3 linked regions of the Homo sapiens genome follow. The protein of the gene in region 1 interacts with the protein of each later gene in a pairwise test. Each region holds a gene or a part of one and is shown on either strand. Other genes may lie near its edges.

Region 1 (7,112 bases):
TGTGCTTTGTTCACTGCAGTAACGAATAATTCCTCAAAATTAACTGTTAAGTGGAGATGCCAAGACTGTAAAATATGCTTTTAAAATGTCTAATTTGGATATTAAGTTTTTATTAGACTAAAAGTGTATGCAATTTAGGCATTTTCTATGTATGGTAACCAAATGAACCTATTGTAGTTGGTTCGCTTTTGTTAGACTTGGTGGTCTCTAAGCTGTACTACTAATCCACCCATTAGACATTCAAGTTAAAAGGGACCTTATACACTTCCAATTAAATGTGCATGTGCTGTGCCATAAGGATTAAGGAAATTGGGGACCAGAATAGTCATGTGACTTGGCCAAGATCAAACATATTTAAGCCACCTTAGTTGTGAGGATGGTTAAAATAGTTAGGGGGTGTTACAGAGTTGCCAGCTGTTTTGGCTGGGTTGAACCTAGTGTGCTTTTGGGGAGATCTGACCATTGGATCAGGATGGAGAAGATGTGCATTCTAGTACATGTTAGTTTTCAATTTCTCTTGTTTCAGTGTCCTTGTCCACAAAATAGACATAAAAATACAAGCTATGTCTATCTTATCAATGGGAAGACAATATTAGGTAATGTGTAAAACATAAATTAAAAGTTCTTTTATTATTATTGCTAGAGTGAGAAGTGAACGTACTTTAAGCTAAACTCAACTTTCTGTGGGAACTTAGTGTTACAGCATTCATTTTATCAAAGTGAAATAGGTCAGAGATAGAAAGTAAAATGATGGTTAAAATATCTTTTTAAAGGATTTTTTTGGGGGGATGAGAATAGATATGTTGCTTTGGCCCTGTGAGTCACAAAATGTTCTCTAGTGACTTGTAACTGGCTCAGCGCAGGTTACTTAAGTTTTCTCCTTTAGCTGCCTTGGTTACATGTAACATTTTATGTTCCTGATTTACTTAAACTTCTTCTGTTGAAATACTATTCTGACAGTATCTGATAGCCAAGAAATCCTGCATCATTCATATGAGTTCCTAATGGCTATTTTTTGAGGACAGGAAGTCACAAATTGCCAAGAATAAATGACCTTGAAAACACAGAGGTGTTTTTTGATCTTTAAGGGACTGACTGATTATATTTCTAAATGGATGATCTGATTTGATTAAAATAACCAGCTGTGTGTTTCTTCCATGACTTAGATAACTTTATTATACATCCTAATTAATAGCTAAAAATTTTGATCTGGTTAGCCAAAATATTTTCTATAACTATGATTTAGAAATGTATTTTACAAAAGATTAAATTTTATTTTTACCTAGGCTGTTAATCTTGACTCTGAGATTACTATTTTAAGGGTTTTGTAGGGTTGCTTACCCCACGGGTGGCCCTAACCCTTCTAGAAGCTTTTTAAAAAGAGCATCTATAAAAGTAACAGTAACTTTATTTCAAGATTATAATATTTAAGAAACAATTGAGAATAGAAGATTGCATATGCATTCATGTTATTGAACATGTGGGCTGTTGCTTACATTCTTTATATAAAAGTCACTGGATCCTGTTTTGTGAGAGAGTGAAAATCTAGAAGTTCAGGGTATTTCCAGTTAAATAAATGTCTTTGAAAATCCTCTTCATGGACAAATACTGCCTATGCCTCCACAGACTTGCCCATTTCCTTTCTAGTAACAATGGGTTCCCCAGGAGTGTTCTAGCCCTCTTGGATCTCTTTCTCTTCTGGACTTCTAAGAGACATCTGAGACAGTATGTAATGGTGTGGAAAACTGTGTGGCAGTTATTTGTGTTGCTCTCTGATTATTTTTGAATGCTCATAGTCTCCACTGTACTGTACTTGAAGAGAGGTCCCATTGTGTACTTTGTTATTTCCCAGAATCTAGCACAGTGCTGGGCACATAGTAAGCACTCAATAAACACATAATTAATCAACACTAACTGGGAAATTTCTTAAGGTCTTGGATTCTGTTTCTAATTATCTGCATGGTACTTCATCTAAGGCCATATGCTGATAGGTGCTTATTGATTGATTTGATTGAAACTATAAACCCTTATAGAATACCCACTCAATTATTTAACTCCTATGGTAATGTGAATCTGAGCCCCCGGTCTTTTCCCTTATTTAACTTGTCTTGTTCAAAGAGTTTTAAATTTGATGTTTCTAATTGAGGTTACCTGGGTTAGCACTTGCACTGGGGAGGATTCTTACATTCAGGTCATTAGAGGTGTAATCCTTAAGTTCATTCTTTTTCATTGCACATTGAGGACCTAGGCCCCCCCTGTGGTTAAATGGCTTGTCTAAGGTTATTCATTAATTCATTTGATGTTACATTTTGAGTCCCTGTTTTGTTCCAGATGACATACTGAGTTAAGGGTAGAGTCTCTTATTTCATAATTCTCTAGCCGTAGTCCCAATTCCAATCTCAGCCTCAATTTAGCTACCATTAATACTTATCTCTTAGTGTAGTGATACCTTTCCTTCCCTTTTCCAGTTCCTAAACATACATTGGAGAAATCATATGTCCAAAATTTCTGTTGGGTCCTACTTAAGGTGTCTCTTTCCAATTTTTTGTAATTGTGGCACTTTATGGTGAATTTTGTAACTTTTTGCTTCCAAAAGCAGGACAATAATATATTTTAAAAATCTTTTTCTGAGGAGGTTTTTTGAAAAATTTACAGTATTCATGATAAGTGAGGAGCTCTTAAAATATCCCAGACACAAAATAGGATTTGGGAATCCATGTCTCAGGGGACATGAATTAGTGTGTTTGGCTGAGTGTGTGATGATATAATGGCTCTGCTACTGAAAGGCCTATAGAATCAGGCTAGGATATAGATTTGTCACTCAGCAACAGCTGTCATCTTAGATAAGTAGTTCTACTTTTCAGTGCTTGGAGAAGACCAAAAATAGCTGCTACTTAGTCCTAGGTATAAAATTATGTGCTTAGACATGTAAAACCTAGTTATAAAACTTTATAGTTTTTTTTTTTTGTGGGTGGGGGGCAGAGGGGGAGGGAGAATGAAGATAGTGACTACATCTTCATGTAGTGATTATGGGTAAACTGAAGTTTTTGGTCAGAAACTTCCCCTTTATTTAGAAGTTTGATTTGGTTCTTTAACAACCTGAATATCTTCACAAGTGACAGGTGAGGAATTAGGGAGATGGAGAGAAATGACACTTTTTCCCCTGTGGGCACTTTATTCCCTGTGGCTTTGACACAGCTGTTAGATATTCTTGCCAGAGATGCTGCCTGGGGTTGCAAGAGAAAAAAGTCAGTGACAAAAGGAAAGAAAAGTAAAGGAACAATGGGGTGTATCTTTCACAGGTCTGCAAACCTGCTGCAGGTAAGTGAGGTTGGCAGCAACGTGATTGGGCATTCTGTCCCATTCTTTTCCATCTTACTAGTGTCAAGGATTGATGCTCAAGAAGCTCTGACCCTTGACACCATTGAAAAGTCACTCATCAGAGTACAACACTTGTTTCCAGCCTTTACTCATGAATATATTTAACTCCAAGGAAAGCAATCAGAATTCTAGATGTTAAGGGTGGGTTAGAGAAATGGATTCTTAGGCTTGACTTGCAGCATCATTTGACCTAAGAAAATTATACTAGATAATCTGAATTTGAAAAATGTTAGGACACACAATTCTTGGCATTAAGCTCCTAAAGGTAAATATTTAAAATTCCAGTAAATCTTCCCGGGTAAATCTGGCTCTAGCCTTCTCCATCAGTCAGCTTCCCCTGCCCCCCAGCCCCACTTGTCTTCATGAGTACAGAAGACACAGGAAAGGACCATCTGGACCAGCATGCCAACTTTTTATTTGGTTGCTCTCAATCCCACCTTCCTGTTTGGATCACCCCTCCCCTCTGCCCATACTTCAGAAACCAATCAAGGTGTCTCCTGAACTCATTTATTCCCTTTGTTTCAACTGCCTTTTTGGGTAACTTTTTCCATATGCTTACATCCTTGACTCACAACAGAGGTTTTTTTCCCATCCAAAATGGCCTGATTAGACTCTTAGGAAAAACCATTTACTCAAATATATGACAAAGTACTTCTAAAGATCCCAAGCAGCTTTTCATTACTTTTGATGGCCATGGCTTATGTAAGTAGAGGAAAAATTTCTGTGTTTAAAAATAACTGACAGGCAGTGATGCTGAGTGGTATGGAATTGAAGAACATAATGTTTGCACTGAATCTTTACTTGCACAAATGTAATAGTCTAATCTAGGTTTGGACCTGTAATTTATAATTATTTTAGTTTAATATGGCATTTATTTTGTTGCCCCAGTTTGGCCTCATTCTCTTCAACATGGTGACATTAGTACTATTTATATTGCCTGTTGTGGACCAATTTTCTTCAGCTGTTGCTAAAACTTACTAAAATGCCAGATGTCATGTTGGAAACACGAAACCTGAAAGAAGGTCATAAATCACAAAAACAAACCATAAAAAATAATAAAATACCCTGAGTGCTGTGCTCTGGAGCTTCCCAGCTTTAAGTCTCCTTTTGTTTACCCCTCTCCCCACTTCATTGCATTTCCCACCCCCATCTTTTAGGGCCATGGGTGAGGGGAGCTCAGCAGTTTCTCACCTAAGGCTTGATTGTTTATTTTGCAGATTCTGAGCAGAGCACTGGTTCAGATTCTGAGGTCCTCACTGAGCGGACTTCCTGCTCCTTCAGTACTCACACTGACCTGGCCTCTGGTGCTGCAGGCCCTGTGCCTGCTGCCATGTCTTCCATGGAGGAGATTCAGGTGGAGCTGCAATGTGCTGACCTCTGGAAGCGGTTCCATGATATTGGAACTGAAATGATCATCACCAAAGCAGGCAGGTAAGGACAAATTCCTTTGAGTGGCCAGATTCAAAGAATTTGCAGAAGTAGGAGCCATTACATTCTTCCATTCTTATTTATTTGTGATGGCATCAACAAAACCAAAGCAGCTTGCACTCACTTCTCTGCATTTGGACATCTTGGTAAAGTTGTTCTGTTGTGTTTGTTGTGATTGTATTATTTTCCTCCAAGGGCCAATCAAATGTAAGTCATGTAAATCACAAACATTTTCCACCTACAAATGTATTTCAGCTAATATTGGAAGTCCATGGGATCTTAACAGCCAAAATATATATTTCCAAAGCAAGTGTTTACTTCACCATTAAATACTTTCAAGAAGTTTGCTTCCCAAATAACAACTTGCATCTTCTAAAGTATTTAAAGCAACAATGCTTTTGTAGTAATTTTTAAAAAAGAATTGACTTGATGCATATTCTGAGCCTGTTGATGTCCATTGTGTTTTATCATTGACTTGAAATTATTACACAACTTTATTGGTGACCTATGGAATTTCTTGTAAAACTGTTTTTCTAGGATTACAAAATTTTAAAAACACAGCTTCTCTTGATATAGACACTTTTAGTTAAGCTACTCCTTTATTGGTATGTTTCAACTTTCCATAGTTAAGTATTTATTTTGTGCTGGACACTCAACATACATCTTTGAAACTTACAGGAACCCTATGAGGTTGGACATAATCATCCCATATATGGATTAGGATGCAGAGGATGAAAGACATTAATTAGCTTGGCTAAGGCACATGGGTACTAAGAGGCAGCTCCAGAATTCTGCATAAATCTGTGTGGCTCTAAAACAGTGGTCTCAACTCTGAACTGTGAAGAAATGGCTGTAGTTCTTGCCCCTTGGATTCAAAATGAAACGATTTAGATAAAATTAAATTTGGGCCGGGCACGGTGGCTCACGCCTGTGATCCCAGCATTTTGGGAGGCCAAGGTGGGTGGATCACCTAAGGTCAGGAGTTCGAGACAAGCCTGGCCAACATGGCAAAACCCTGTCTCTTTTAAAGTTACAAAAATTACCTGGATGTGGTGATGGGTGCCTGTAATCCCTGCCACTTGGGAGGCTGAGGCAGGAGAATCGCTTGAAGCTGGGAGGCGGAGGTTGCAGTGAGCCAAGATCGTGCCGTTGCACTCCACCCTGGGTGAGAGAGCAAGACTCTGTCTCAAAAATAAATAAATAAACAAACAAATAAATAAATAAATACATTTGGACTAAGCTTTTCAGCATATAGGAATAGTTCATTGAAATTAAGCAAAACAGTTATGCTACTTTTGTGTTTTCAAAGCCAGTGTACATAATCTCACATGTCATGGGGAACAAAAATCGCATCTTACTGATTGTGAGCTGTTTTCATGAACATAGCCATTTAAAGTAAAATAATATTTTGGTTGGGTCCAGTTTATCTACGTGTATATAAGGAAACCTCCCAAAACAATAAGATATGACAAAAACATGAAGTTAAAATAAATCTGAAATTTTGTTTATTTTCTTTCTTTTCTGGAGCTCTCTTCCTTCTCTCAGTAGTGAATAAAACCATTAAAGGCTTCCTAGGGGGAGAAGATGGGCTGGATAACTGTGTTCAATATCATCTCTTTTTCGTTGCTTGGGTCTCAGTGTACTTCTGTTCCACATTTTGTGGTGTAAAGGCTTGGAAGAAAACAAAGTAACTCAAGGAAATTTTTTTAAAGTTTTTGGTAGAAGAGTTGGTTTGGAGAGAGAAGAAATATTACATTTTTTTTTTGTCTATAAGATTTTCCGGTATTCTTTTTGGGTTTTTACTTTATTACTCTTGGGTCTCTGTATTCCAGTCATGTTTGTTCCTGATATCACTTCGTTATTCCCTGTGCTTTAGTGAATTGAGTTCATTTGAGCATCTCCTTGACAACCTTCTTGTGACTCATTTTGTAATTCTTCTGCAGTATTTTCATTTCCATATCCCTGATTTCACAAGTTCACCTTAATATCTGGATACTCTACACATTCCCCAAGACAGACACATAGTTTGTTCTTTAGTAATAATTGAAATCCTTTGTTTAAGTTTAGAAACTACATTAATTGGTTCTGTATTCAGTTGTCTCAACTGTTGTTACTACATCTAATTCTTCTCAGGTAATTCTGAAACAACTCTGAATCATACAAATAAGGCTTTCTCTTCTGTGAATTTTCTTCATTCCTTCTCATTCTCCTGGTTAATTTCTTGCTTCTCACTCATTTTTCTTGCTATGCAGTATTGTCAGTATTCTTTTCCATTTTAATTCCAATCTCCATCTTCTTAATTA
Region 2 (7,464 bases), on another chromosome or scaffold:
AACTTGTGCATCCTTTCCCCATACTTCTTTTAGGCTGGAAGCTGTATCTAAAAGCTTTATTAGATTCTAGTTCAGATTTTTTTTTGGAAAATACTTCATATTGCATCACATTAGAAGGCACTTAAGTCTGGTGCACTTTAATGATACTTTCTATTGTTTATTTTTGACTATACAAATAAACAGAGTATCTGCTCCTTTTCTTACACAAAAGGAAGTATATACAGTGTTCCTTAACTTTCTCTTTTCACTTGACGATCCATATCAGGATACAGCAAGCAGTCTCCTCAGTCCTTTTCATAGCTTCATAGCACTCCACCGATTGGATGTGTCATAGCTTATTCAAACAGATTCTTATTGATGGACATATCGGTTATTTCCAGGTTTTTTTGGCTATCATAAATAATGCTGCGATGAAACGTTATGCATATGTTATTTTGTATTTGTACAAGCCTATCTTTGGAGTAGAGTTCTAGATGTGGAATTGCTGGGTCAGAGGATAAATGCATATTTAACTTTACAAATGTAACTGGATTGCAGTGGCTCACGCCTCTCATCTAAGCACTTTGGGAGGATGAGGTAGGCGGATCACTTGAGCTCAGGAGTTTGAGACCAGCCTGGCCAACCTGGGCAATCCCGTCTCTACTAAAAATACAAAAATTAGCCGGGCGTGGTGGCGCATGCCTGTAATCCCAGCTACAAAGGCAAGAGAATCGCTTTAACCCGGGAGGTGGAGGTTGCAGTGAACCGAGATCGCGCCACTGCACTCCGGTCTGGGCGACAGAGCAAGGTTCCTTAGAAAGAAAGAGAGAAAGAGAGAGAGAGGGAAAGGGAGAGAGAAAGAAAGAAAAAGGAGGAAGGGAGGGAAGGAAGAAGGGAGGGAGGGAGGAAGGGAGGAAGGAAGGAAGAAATTCAAGATAGACAAAAGTGATCTATGATAATAGAAAGCAGAAAAGTGGTCATTTGGGAGTAGGGAGGGGGAGGGGACTGATGGAAAGGAGTACAGGAAGTGTTCTGGAGTGATTAAAATGTTCTGTATCTTGATTGAGGTGGTGGTTACATGGGTGTATACATTTATCAAAATGCATTGAACTGCATACAGATATGTGCATTTTACTTAGTGTAAACTATATGTCAATCATAATTCTCACTCCATCACTTTATTGTTACTAGTAATATTGGTATTGTATTTTTGAAATGGAGCATTTGTCCTCCTGGACTGTAGAGTCTGGTGGAGTCTATAGACCAGCAAACAGACAATTACCATACCGTGCAGTAAGTGTGAAAATAGCAAAAGTCCAGGGCACCTTGGGTGTACAGAGGCCCTTTAACTCAGATTGAGGGAAGACAGGGAAGGTTCCTGAGAGAAAGTAAAGTCTAAGTTAAGAACTGAATGATGAACGGAAGTTGTTCAAGGAACTTTCATTCGTGAGAGGGAAGAGTCAAGGATATGCCTAGTTTACCAGCTTGGTCACTGGGTGGGAGGTGGGTGGAGCCCTTCGCTAGGTTATTGAACATGGGAGGAGGAACAGGTTTGGGGGAGGGCAGGGCTAATGGTGAGTTCATTTGGAGGCATATTGAGTTGGATTTGAAGTCTAAGAGAGCTAAGGGCTAGAGATAGGGATTTTGGAGTCATCAGCATATAATTGTTCATTTAAGTATTGGGACTTTATGAGCTGGCCAGGTGAAGGAGCCATAGAAGAAGTTGAAAATTTATTAGAGAAAGAGAATTATGATTGGGAACATTTATGGGAAAAGGGGAATTGTGAGGTCAGATTGTGAGAGAAAGCTGGGCAACTGGAATTGATTATTTTCTCTCCAATTTCTTAATATAAAAAGTAGCAAACCAAAAAAAGTTGAAAAAATAGTTCAAAGAGTACCTGTGTATCTTCCACTCCAGGTTAATAATTATTAATACTACCATACTAGCTTTATGTTTGTTGGTATGTGTGTGTCTGTCTTTTTCATTTTGTTGAATTATTTGAGAGTGGGAGTGCCTTATGGAGAAAATACATGTGATAAATAAGCTTCCTTCAGCTATGAGTTATAGGGCTCTTGGCCCTGAGTTCAGTGTTAACGAATCACAATGTAAAGATGTCTTTACATAAAAACACACATAAAACAAGGTTATAGGCCGGGCGCGGTGGCTCACGCCTGTAATCCCAGCACTTTGGGAGGCCGAGACGGGGGGATCACGAGGTCAGGAGATCGAGACCATCCTGGCTAACACGGTGAAACCCCGTCTCTACTAAAAATACAAAAATTAGCCGGGCATGGTGGCGCGCGCCTGTAGTCCCAGCTACACGGGAGGCTGAGGCAGGAGAATGGCGTGAACCCGGGAGGCGGAGCTTGCAGTGAGTCGAGATCGCGCCACTGCACTCCAGCCTGGGCGACAGAGCGAAACTCCGTCTCAAAAAAAAAAAAAAAAAAAAAACAAAACAAGGTTATATGTTGATCAGTTGATGAAAACATTGTCACCAGAGGCTCACAGGAACCTAATTCTGTACTTCCCCTAGTAGGAATGGTTTAGTATTCAATAATTATTTGTTGGTGGCTACTTATAAAATCTAACTATCACAGGTACAGTAATGAGAATTAACTATATGTCTTTCTATTCGTATTTCCTATCCTTTCTTACATAAAAATTAAAAATTTCTTTGTACTTTTTGTCTTTGAAAAATATTTCACTAAATAAAGAGAACTGTGTTCAAAAATCACTTGTGATGTTATGTTACCAATTTAATATACAATTAGGTGTATTAGTTTTAGTATGCATTCAATTTTAAGCTCACCTTTTTATTTTCTATTTTTTGAATATGTAAAACATGCACATGGATTAAAAGTCTCACTGTAAAGAAAGTTTTCACTTTCATCCCTATCCCCTCACCCCTTTGTAGTTAACCATTTTTGTGGTCTCTGATTTAACCTTCCAGAGTTGTTTTGTTGTTGTTGTTGCTGTTGTTTTGAGACAGAGTCTCACTCTTGTTGCCTAGGCTGGAGTGTAATGGCCCCATCTCGGCTCACCGCAACCTCTGTCTCCCGGGTTCAGACAATTCTCCTGCCTCAGCCTCCCGAGTAGCTGGGATTACAGGCATGCGCCACCATGCCTGGCTAATTTTTTTGTATTTTTGTAGAGACGGGGTTTCTCCATGTTGGTCAGGCTGGTCTCGAACTCCTGACCTCAGATGATCCGCCCACCTCGGCCTCCCAAAGTGCTGGGATTACAGGCGTGAACCACTGCGCCCGGCTTTTTTTGTTTTTGAGACAGAGCCTTGCTTTGTTGCCCAGGCTGGAGTGGTGGCACGATCTCGGCTCACTGCACCCTCCGCCTCCGAGGCTCAAGAGATTCTCCTGCCTCAACCTCCCCAGGAGCTGGGATTACAGGCGCGCGCCACCACGCCTGGCTAATTTTTTTTTTTTTTTTTTTTTTTTGGTAGAGACGGGGTTTCACCATGTTGGCCCGGCTGTTCTCGAACTCTTGGCCTCAAGTGATCTGCCAGCATCGGCCTCCCAAAGTTCTGGGATTACAGATGTGAGCCACCGCGCCCGGGCCCAGAGGTTTTTAAAATGCAAAAACAAATACATATACTTTTGTTTCCCTTCCTTCATTAAACTTCGCTTTTTTTTAAAAAAGAAAAAAACCCGTATACGTTGGAGGTCACTTTATATTGGTACTGTGAAATCATCCTCCTGTTTTATAAGCCGCGTGTTTACTTATAAGCACTCCACGGGTTAGTCAACTCATTGGAGCAAGCGTTTTGAAGTGTGGCAGATTGACAGTCCACCTGAAATCAGAATAACTGAGTTCAAATCCTGACTACACCATTTAACTCGTCGTTTCATCTTGAGCAAGTCCTTTACCATTTTTGTGTCTCAGTTTTCTCATCTGTAAAATGAGGCTGTTGTGGAAAAGACAGTAGACAGCTCACTGGGCTGTCATGAGCAACACATGAATTCACACATTTAAAGTGCTTATGACAGTGCATGGCGCATACGAAGCCCTCAAGTTAAATAAAAATCGGGGTAGGTGGGAGCGATGGAGATTTATAACAGCTTCCGGTAAATGTCGAGGCACAGTATTTCCAGAGCTTGTGCGAAGTAGGGAACCCAACAGCTCTCATGGCCTCGAAAGAAGGGGGATCCTGTGTCCGGGAAGCTCGGCCGCAGTCCTGCAATGTCTAGGGCAGCGGTGAGAGCGCTGTGGCTGGCTCAACGCAGCCCGACACCAGGGAAGACGCTCTGGCCCTCAGTTTCCCGGCAGCAAAGGAGCGCGAGGTGGTCTCCACTTTCAGCCTACTCGGTCCGGGGTTGCGAACTGTAAGGTCTGAGTTGCTGCGGCGCAGGCAGCGGAGACCAAGCAGGGATCTTAACAGGGTTTAGCGCCACGCGGGCCAGGGCCGAGGCCGGAGCTGGGAGGGGCGCGCCCGGGAAGGGGCGGAGCTGCGGCGGTGGCGCCAAATCGCAAATATGGCGCCGGAGCGGCTGCGGAGCCGGGCGCTCTCCGCCTTCAAGTTGCGGGGCTTGCTGCTCCGTGGGTGAGTGGGCTCGGGCAGCTTGAAGGGCGAGAGGGAAGAGCTGGGGCCCGTCTGCCTGGTGCGGCAGCGGGACGCACCGCGGCGGCTCCCCGCGCGCCGAGAGGGGGCTTGACCTTAAATTTCAGAGTTCTAAGAAGCGGTCGGGCGCGGTGGCTCACGCTTGTAATCCCAGCACTTTGGGAGGTCGAGGCGGGCGGATCACGAGGTCAGGAGATCGAGACCATCCTGGCCAACATGGTGAAGCCCCGTCTCTACTAAAAATACAAAAATTAGCTGGGCGTGGTGGCGCGCGCTTGTAGTCCCAGTTAGTTGGGAGGCTGAGGCAGGAGAATCGCTTGAACCCGGGAGGAGGAGGTTGCGGTGAGCCGATATCGTGCCACTCTACTCCATCCTGGCGACAGAGAGAGACTCCATTAAAAAAAAGTTCTAAGAAGCGAGGTGGATCTTGAGGCTGCCGTGCCTTCTTTGGTTTCCCCGACCCATGCGAGGAGTTTAATGTTTCTTCTAGGCGGGCCGAGGCTCTTCTGCACATGTCAAACTGAGCCCGAGAAGCTGCAACCTATCTATGGCAGCCGGTTATCAACATTGTGACCTGGACAGCTCTCAGGCTCCCGGGAAGGTTGCTGAGACATAAGATGAGAGACCCGAGAAAGCCCACTTGCACGTCTGCAGTTGCCAATTTATGTGAAAGTCAGGTTTCCTGGGCATATCCGTGTTTTTGAGGACCTATAGAACATATGAACCTTCCCAAGATTTCTCTCATTAAATCTGCTCCGTGTTTTAGAGTTCTATATGTACGTGTGTGTGTGTGTGTGTGTGTGTGTGTGTGTGTGTGGTGTGTGTGTATATATATATATGTATTTTTTTTTTTTTGAGTCATGGTCTCACTCTCGCCCAAGCTGGAGGGCAGTGATGCGAACTTGACTTACTGCAGCCTCAACCTCCTGGGCTGAAGTAGCTGGGACTGCAGGCATGGGCCACCATACCTGGCTGATTTTTTGTTGTTGTATGTTTTTTAGAGACGGGGTCTGGCTATGTTGCCCAGGCTGGTCTTGAACTCCTGGGCTCAAGTAGTCCTCGCGCCGTGGCCTCCCAGAATGCTGGAATTACAGGCGTGAACCACTGCGCCTGACCTAGAACACAATATTTTATACATATTGAAATACCTGCTGGATTGGATATACCTCTCTGTATCAGTTTTTATTGCTTTTGTGTGTGTAGATTTTTGGTTGGTTTTGTGAGTTTTATGGGACTTTTAACTGTGCTTTGGGAGATGCCTTGGGAGAAAATAATGAATTTTGTTCAATTGGTCCTTGACATTTTGAAAGCATGAGGAACTGATGAATTAACTTTCTTTTCGCTTAGAATTTGACCTAATATTAAGCTTTTGTTCATTAATTATTTCAGTCATAAGTATACTTAAATCTGTTAGCTGCAAAGCACCGTGCTGGGGTAAGGGGGTGCAATAGAGAGCAAGAGCTTTGTAGGGGGCAGATAATGTATTCTATTGCTGCGTGACAAATTACCCCACAATTTAAAGGCTAAAACAGTACACATTATCTCAAATTTTCTGTGGGTTAGGAATTCAGGTGTGGCTTAGTTGGGTCCTCAACTTCAGGGTCTTTTCACAAGGTTGCAGTCAAGATGGATCATCTCAAATGTTGTCCAGACAGCATTCGCTTCAAGCTCATTCAGTTGTTGGCAGGATTCAGTTCCTGATTGCCTGGCAGGCTGTTGGCTGGAGGCTATCCTCAGTCCCTTGCCATGTGTGCCCCCAACATGGCTTCATCAAGAGAGAGAGTCTTCTAGTAACTCTGAGGCAACCTAATCAAGGAGGTGACATCTTGTTATTTTTAAATTTTTTTTACTTTTAAATTTTACTTTCAAAATTATAATACAGTAAGTTATTCTATCCCTTTTGCTATATTCTATTTTTAGAAACAAGTTACTAGGTCCAGCCCACACTTAAGGGCAGGGGATTACATAGGTGTAACTACCAGGAGTAATGGATTATTAGGGGCCATCTTAGAAGTCTGTCTACCATGGATATTAAATGACTATTTTACAGCTATTTAATCTCAATTGTGAAAGGGATTCCAGGAAAGAAGGGCTATGAGAGTTTATGATAAGGTGTATAAACTGCCCTAGAGTCAAGGAAGAACTTCACTGCAGAAGTGGTTTGGGCTGACTTAAAGAATGAGCAGGACTTGGCTGGGCGCAGTGGCTCACGCCTGTAATCCCAGCACTTTGGGAGGCTGAGGTGGGCGGATCACGAGGTCAGGAATTCGAGACCGGCCTGACCAACATGATGAAACCCTGTCTCTACTAAAAATACAAAAAAAAAAACCAACCAGCCAGACGTGGTGATGTGCACCTGTAACCCCAGCTACTCAGGAGGCTGAGGCAAGAGAATCGCTTGAACCCGGGAGGTGAAGGTTGCAGTGAGCCAAGATTACGCCACTGCACTTCAGCCTGGGTAAGAGAGCGAGACTCCATCTCAAAAAAGAAAGAAAGAAAAAAAAGAAAGAACAGGACCTGACTAGGTGGAGAGAAGAGTGGGAGGAAATGGCCATATAAAGACCCTAAAGCAGGAGAGTGCCAGGAAGGCCAGGGACATGGTATGAGCTTAATGGGATTTGGCAGGGGCAAGATTCTGTATGGCTTTACAGGCTTTGGTCTATGCTAAGAACTGTCCCAAGATGCAACCAAAATGTATATGATTTTAGGGACTCAGTGGTCAAATATTTATGGACCACCTTCAAGTGTATTTAGAACTCTGTGGAAGGATGGCACAGAGTTCTAAGTTACAGTTTTAAAGTTATCTATAATTCAGTTCTCAGTTATCTATAATAAATTTGAGAGATGCAACACCTACACACAAAACAACTAATAAAGCAACCCAATATATAGAACAATTAGTGTTATGGCTATA
Region 3 (7,112 bases), on another chromosome or scaffold:
AATTGACAGCAATTAATTCTTAGATGAAATAAAATTGAAGTTATATATATGTAAAGGATTTGAAGGCCATGAATCCTGATACAAACGTCAAATAGTATTCTTATCAATAGTAGCAATCATAAAATATCAATTTTAAAATCGATATTTTAAAATCCATTAAACTATTGTATTTAAACTATAGAATTTCAATTGATTTAAGATTTCACAGTTTTCTAAATGCTTCATAATATTGTGTTACTTTTCCTACCAATTTTTCAATGGTTGGATAGAAATAAACTAACCTAAAAATTATATTTTTCAATATGCAATGGGAAATAGTAAGCAAAAGCTGCCCCTGCATTAAAATATCTGTCATCAGTTTATTTTAGAAAAAGAATTCTCTCATTGTATGTATTCTTTATATTCTTTTTATTTCATATATGTAATATATCTATATTTACATAAATATGTATACTGAAATATTCCTTTTTGATATAGCAAATATATATGGTTCTTTAAAATATTTATACTGATTCCTCTAATTAAATAAAATTTTTTGTAATGATTATATACTTTCTTTTTTCTTTTTATCTCTCTCGATTCTTTTACTAATTAAATAAATTTGCTAGAAAACTATCAAACAAATAAAATGAAAAAAGCTTCTATCTACCCATAGGCAGGACACAAGAATGTCTACCGTTGCCACTTGCAATTTTTTTTCAGATAAAGTTAGGTTAATTTTCACAGATTATAATGAACCAATTTAAATATTTACGTTTACAACACACACAAGCACACACACACTCACATACACAGACATAGCCTCACAATCAACAGTACTGGTTAAAATAAGAATCTCAAAGTATCCAAATGGCCTGATAACTCACTAATGTGCCAAGGTTGAATTTGCATACTTGTTTTTAACATTAAGTGCGATCATGAGGAAAACAGAAATACAGCATTTAAACAGCAATGGATTCAAATGCTGCCTTTCATCCCATCTTAATTTCATTCTCCATAGACTCTGGTGCCTCAACTACTTTCTAATGTCTGTGTTCTGTTGACTGTAAATCAATTTATTGCTTTTTTTAATTTTTATTTTTTGAGATGGACTTTTGCTCTTGTTGCCCAGGCTGGAGTGCAATGGTGTGATCTTGGCTCACTGCAACCTCCGCCTCCCAGGTTCAAGTGATTCTCCTGCCTCAGCCTCCCTAGAAGCTGGGATTACAGGTGCCTGCCACGATGCCCAGCTAATTTTTTGTATTTTTCGTAGAGACGGGGTTTCACTATGTTGGCCAGGCTGCTCTCAAACTCCTGACCTCAGGTGATTTACCCGCCTCAGCCTCCCAAAGTGCTGGGATTACAGGCATGAGCCACTGCGTCCAGCTCTGCTTTTTTTTTTTTTTTAACTAAGTATTTTGCTCATAAGCACTTCTGCCACATTCTGTATTCACTTGGTGTTTGCTCCTTCAGTGAAATTTTCCTGGTGTTACATTCTTTCTTGGGAATAATATATAAAATTCAAAACATCGAGACTAAATATCAAATCATCAGAACCAAGATTTCCTGATTGAAGGTCACAATGTAATCTAATTGGTATTTTTCTCAAAATGCACAATCACTTCCTAAAAATATCCAGATTTCTCAGAAATATTTATGTTTTTCTTCGAAGACCCTGCAGAAATTTTAACAAAAATAAAGTCATCTAAAGGGATTTTAAAGACTACAAGTTGTTGTTTTTCTTAAATGCACATTTATGTCTCTTCACCACTACATAGTTATGACAATTTTTCCCTCGGTAAAATGACTCTGGAGTAAGATGAAACAATAAATGGGTTAATAGTTATAAAGTTAAAGCTAACTCACAAAGAGGTTAAAGTATCAATGTGGAGAGTTCGCTTGGGCAGTACAGACCATATCCAACCACCACACTGCTTGCCATTAGGCACAACAGCAACAAATTTTTCAGCAGGAATGTGCAGGGGAAGGATTTGTCTGACAAGAGAAAGACTTCCATGTCAGGAGCCAAATACCACTAACTCCCCAAGGCTTAAGCCTACAAAATGCCAAATGATTACCGTGCATATGTGGAAACTTTTTTTCCTAGGGAAACAAAAGTATTTTAATGAATCACTGGAGTCTTTGGATATTTAGAAACAGATTTAAAAATAAAATCTACTGGCTATCTTTTTAAAATACAATGATTCTTTCATATTCAAAAACATGATTGGAGCTATAAGAAGAAATCACTATCCCAGGGTAAATATTTCAAAATCATAGAGGACATAAAAGCAGCACATTACTCTGTGACCATATATATTTTTTTTCTTTTGAGACAGGTTCTCGCTCTCATTTGCACTCATTGCACTCATTGCCCAGGCTGGAGTGCAATGGCGTGACCACGGCTCACTGCAGCCTCCACCTCTCAGGCTCAAATGATTATCTCACTTCAACTGGGACTACAGGTGTGTGCCACCATGCTGGCCTTATTTTTTATTCTAATTTTTTTGTAGTGACAGGATCTCACTATGTTGCCAGGGTTGGTCTCCAACTCCCGGCCTTAAGTGATCCTCCTGCCTCAGCCTCCCAGAAGTGTTGGGATTACAGGCATGAGCCACCGTGCCTGGCCACATATTTCCTAATTTACTTGGATAACAGATTTTGGTTCTTAGTCTATTTGGAGAAGGATAGGTCAAGTTATATGAGGTTGGGTCAAGTTAAGGAACATATATCACAAATCTTTTGTATATTTCATTTCACATAACTGTCCTCTCACATACACATATTTTGTCAGAATAAGTATTCCCAAGTAATAAGTTAATATGCAAATTACTGGGTCAGGATGGCCTAACTATAATGGTAAGTGGCAGAGATGGGATTAGAACCTATTTCTGTCTGTTTACAAAGCATGTACCCAGAAAATAGACTAAAGAAAATGTGTCTCTACGATATTTATTTTAACTGAATAAACAGACAAACAGAAAACATCAGTCAGCATGGCATCACATGCTAACTAGGACAGTCTAAAATTCATGACATTAAAAAGTTAGAGATTAAACAATGTCATGCTTTTAAAAACATATATAATTCTAGGTGAAATTGAACTTCTATGTCTAAGAACATATTATCTCCTTGACAAATCAGATACATAAAACAATTGTCTACAATTTTTCTGAAAATCTTATTTTGGAAATTTGACCAGTCAGTCTGTGAGACAAAATCACACCTCAGGATTCTGTGTTTGTTTCTCTGTTTTTGTTAACAGTAGGGAGGAGCCAACCGAAAATAATATAACTTAACAGGATGAGTTACTTTTGAGTGCATTTGCCTCTAAATGATTCTTGACATTATCAAAAAATCAAACCTAACCCCTCCAAGGAAGAAAAATTGCCAGTTTTGATGATGTTCAAAAAAATGTGCCACAGGCTTAGAGGCGATTTCAAAATTTACATTCCCAAAATGTTTTAAGCAATGATCATATCATGAGGGTATGTGTTCTCTCTCAAACCAACTACTTTGAAGGAGACAACAGTTTCCAACATATAAATTTCTAGTTAGTTTGTATAATTCTATTACTAGACTTAGGGTATAATTTCATTTTTAAGGTAATTTATCCATTATTCATTAATTTATCTAGTTGTCAATTAATACCTACCTTGTGTCAGAAATTATGCAAAGACTTGGAGTCACAAAGATGAAAGTCATAGCCTGTTCCTAAACTCAAACTTCTCATAGTTAATTGGAAGAGTATAGTAAGGGCAATAATAAATAAAGAGAGCCTCATGGTTTATTTATATGGCTGATGGCATTATAATCTCTAAGTGGCTAATATTCCAAAATTTAAAAGTAAGAAAATTCAAAAGATAACATAGGTTAATTACTAACTGTTTTCTTGTTTCTAAAGCAGCACAGATGGGAAGGGAATTCAATAAAAAAGAACTGAAATGGGAAAGAAGATTTGACCGAAACTATTTCCATGAGTCTGAGCAAGCCACTGAAGCTTCTGGCCCTTAGCTTCCTCTTTTGAAAACAAGAAACTTTGATTTGATTGTCTCAGAGGTCTCTCATCCAACTCTATATCTTAATAAGCAACATGCTGGAGCTCTAGACAAATTCACACTTAATTTTCTTTCTTACATTGGCTGCCTCTTCTGATATTTAGCCAAAAAAACCCTACAGATCATTGAAGAACAATTTATTTTCAGACATGGGTCATCTAGCCCAATTCCTAGGAATTAGTTATGGCACTTCGTTTATCTGTCTTCATATTAACAAGAAAGGATAGACTTTTAGAGTCCCCCTACTGCATCCTCCAATGACAAGTGTTTTGGCATACTGAAATCATTTGGTTTTAAGGAGAAATGACACCTGTTGAATTTAAGTCATTCTTCTTTTCTTCTTCAACTAAAGAAGGAGACAAGTGAAAAATGGTTCAGTTACCCTAGTTCAGACCACACTTGTAAATTACTGGCGTAAATCTGGTATCCACTGAACTATCAGTAAATATGGATTTATGAGTTGTTCTAGCAGCAGCTGTTTGGGTCTAATGGTTCAAGGCAGTCTTAGGTCTTCCTAAATGAGTAGTCAGAGCAGAAAACCAGCTGCTTAAAGAGATGTGTTTTGAAAGGTTCAGAGCAGAGCTTAGCTCAAAAGTTTTGCTTTCACTGTCCCTGACAGAGCCTCAAATTCAACTCTTAGAGAGCTTTTGCTTCTTGAATAAAAATGTTTTCTTGGAGGTAATACCCTAACATATTATCTATTACAAGATATATTAGTTTTCAGATTTTTAAAAAGTTAGTTGGACACAGAGCCTATGGAAGTGAGAACCAAGCTAAGCACCCAGGTCTTAGAATGACAGTCACCTAGCTTACAAGTTTGCTTTAAGATCTGCCTTAGGCATCATAAGCATAATAGTTTTATTCCCATTGAAAATTCCCTTTGCACAGATAGATATGACAAATATATATATATATACACACACACACGTATACACACACACACATATATACACACACGCACATAGCCCAGCTTCTTCTTCAGTAACCTGAAGAAACAGTGCATAGGAGAACAAGACTTTCCACTCTAAACACCTCTTTTACCATCTTATAGGTCACCTCCTTGCCATCTCCGGCTTTGTGAGATGTGAAATTTTACTAAGGGCTAGATAAGGTAGAACTTCCTTGCATTTAGCCAGAATACCCTTTACATAAATTTCCACAGTGTCACCTTGTCCTGGCATTTTGTTTCTTGGTGAACACATCCTCACTATGCATGATTTTATGGTTCTCAATCTTGCCCTTACCATCATCATTGTAATCTCGATTCTGGTTGACTGCCAGAGATAAGAGTTCAATTATTTTAACATTTAATTTTTCCTCCAGCTTTGAATTTTCTGGCTGGGAAGTTATAGGGAGCATGAAGCTGTGGGGCACTTTAAGTCTCGAAGTCTCTACAGTGAAGTTAATTTGTGTAGTGTGAAGTTATAGGGGCTGTTCTTTCTCAAAGAAGTCCTGTATAAATTTTTATAAATCTACTTAAGTCCTTACTTACAGTTGCAAGAAAAATAGATCCTCTGCCTCAAATAAGTTGTCTGTGAATTGAAACTACTTTGGTTATAACTGTATTCTTTTCTCTTAATGAATCTAAACTTATGTTGGAATAGCAATAATAGATGAGACACTTAACTGCTAATACCACTTCCTGTATTTTATTTTAGATAAATAAATATTCATTTGCTAACTGGATATACTGTTTCATCAACAAGGGTGCAACATGGATAGCATAAGTCATTAGCATAATCCAAATGCTTGCTAACGGCCTTTGGAATGCCTAAACTTAAAAAAGTACACTACCAAGGACTTGGAAAGAATCTCGCACTCCAACGCCAAAGAATCTATTGCATATTAATCTTCATTAGAAAAAAAATTGATTGGGGACCTAAAGACAAAAATAAGCCTATTGTGCAATAGCAAAACATTAAAAAAATTTAAAAAGCTTTAGGAAATTTCATGTCATTGTACAAAGATGCTACACCGGAGAAAGGGGGATCTGGTGATCCTAATTTTGTCACCAGCTTTGAAATCTTTAGCTAGGCATTTCAGCCCTATAAAAATCCATTTTCTCACTTGTAAAAAGAAGAGTTGAAGTTATGTTTTTCCAGGGCTTTTTTCTCTGACAAACCGAATTGCAGAACAATTTTATGACTCAACCAACGTAGCAGAGTCCAGAGAGAGTTTGAAAAAACACCTTACAAAACTTATAACTGAAGTTCTCCCTCCAAGGGCACTTAATTTTTTCAAGTGAAAGCATGCATGCAGATTCATCCAGCTGTTACCCTGGAAGAGGACAGAGTAAATATACTCCATTTTATATGAAGCCCAAAGTGTGATTGTTAAAAATCCCCATGCACAATTAGAAAACCAGTGACTGTTCTCTGTCTCATCTATAAACTGCATAATTCTGAAACCTTTGACAGCATGTGCTGAGAGACTGAGTCAAGGGTTCTCCTGAGGAGTTGTTAGAGACTGACATATTAAAGCCAGAAAGAGATGGTGGGCATGCGAAACAGGTCACCCAGCATCCCTCAGTAATTTTGGCTCTATAAACCCCACTGTAGGATTTATACCCAGCCATGCAATTTCTAGTAATTAATGTCAGGGACAATAAAATGTATACTTTGCACATATTTTAGCTTACTTTGACTTTTTAGCCCACTGTATACCTAAGTAACACACTGCAGTGCAAGCTAATATATATATACAGTTAACTAGGTTTTTAAAATGACATTCACTTATTACCCACCTACAACATGCAATATGTTCAACAAAAACCTAAACTTAAATTTCAGGTGCACATTTGTGCTTATCGGAAAACAGGTGAGAGTACACATGCCTGGATAATGAAGTTCTGTTATTTCCAAAATAATTCTCAATGTTATATGATCATTTGTTAAGAGGAAAAATATACCTGTGTTTAAAATCCATCATAAGGAATCATTTTGATACAGTAATTAATAAGGACTTCAGAGCCATACAGTTTGAGGGGGAAATTAGTTGACAGATACACTACTACAATTGAATACAGAAGTAATATAAAACTTTAATGCTGTCTTTTCTAGCATTTTTTAAATGGCT

What was found.
Region 2: the proteins of TBX15 (region 1) and POLE2 interact in binary tests that used the Homo sapiens proteins (3 or more experiments, as listed by UniProt).
Region 3: the proteins of TBX15 (region 1) and VGLL3 interact in binary tests that used the Homo sapiens proteins (3 or more experiments, as listed by UniProt).

Annotation. Positions count from the first base shown.
Region 1 is NC_000001.11:118,929,319-118,936,430, reverse strand, and holds part of TBX15 (T-box transcription factor TBX15), read left to right. Parts: intron 1-4,598; coding exon 4,599-4,812; intron 4,813-7,112. UniProt on the Homo sapiens protein: Probable transcriptional regulator involved in the development of the skeleton of the limb, vertebral column and head. Acts by controlling the number of mesenchymal precursor cells and chondrocytes.
Region 2 is NC_000014.9:49,685,204-49,692,667, reverse strand, and holds the start of POLE2 (DNA polymerase epsilon subunit 2), read left to right. Parts: upstream 1-4,453; 5' UTR 4,454-4,464; coding exon 4,465-4,532; intron 4,533-7,464. UniProt on the Homo sapiens protein: Accessory component of the DNA polymerase epsilon complex. Participates in DNA repair and in chromosomal DNA replication.
Region 3 is NC_000003.12:86,981,079-86,988,190, forward strand, and holds part of VGLL3 (transcription cofactor vestigial-like protein 3), read right to left. Parts: intron 1-7,112. UniProt on the Homo sapiens protein: May act as a specific coactivator for the mammalian TEFs.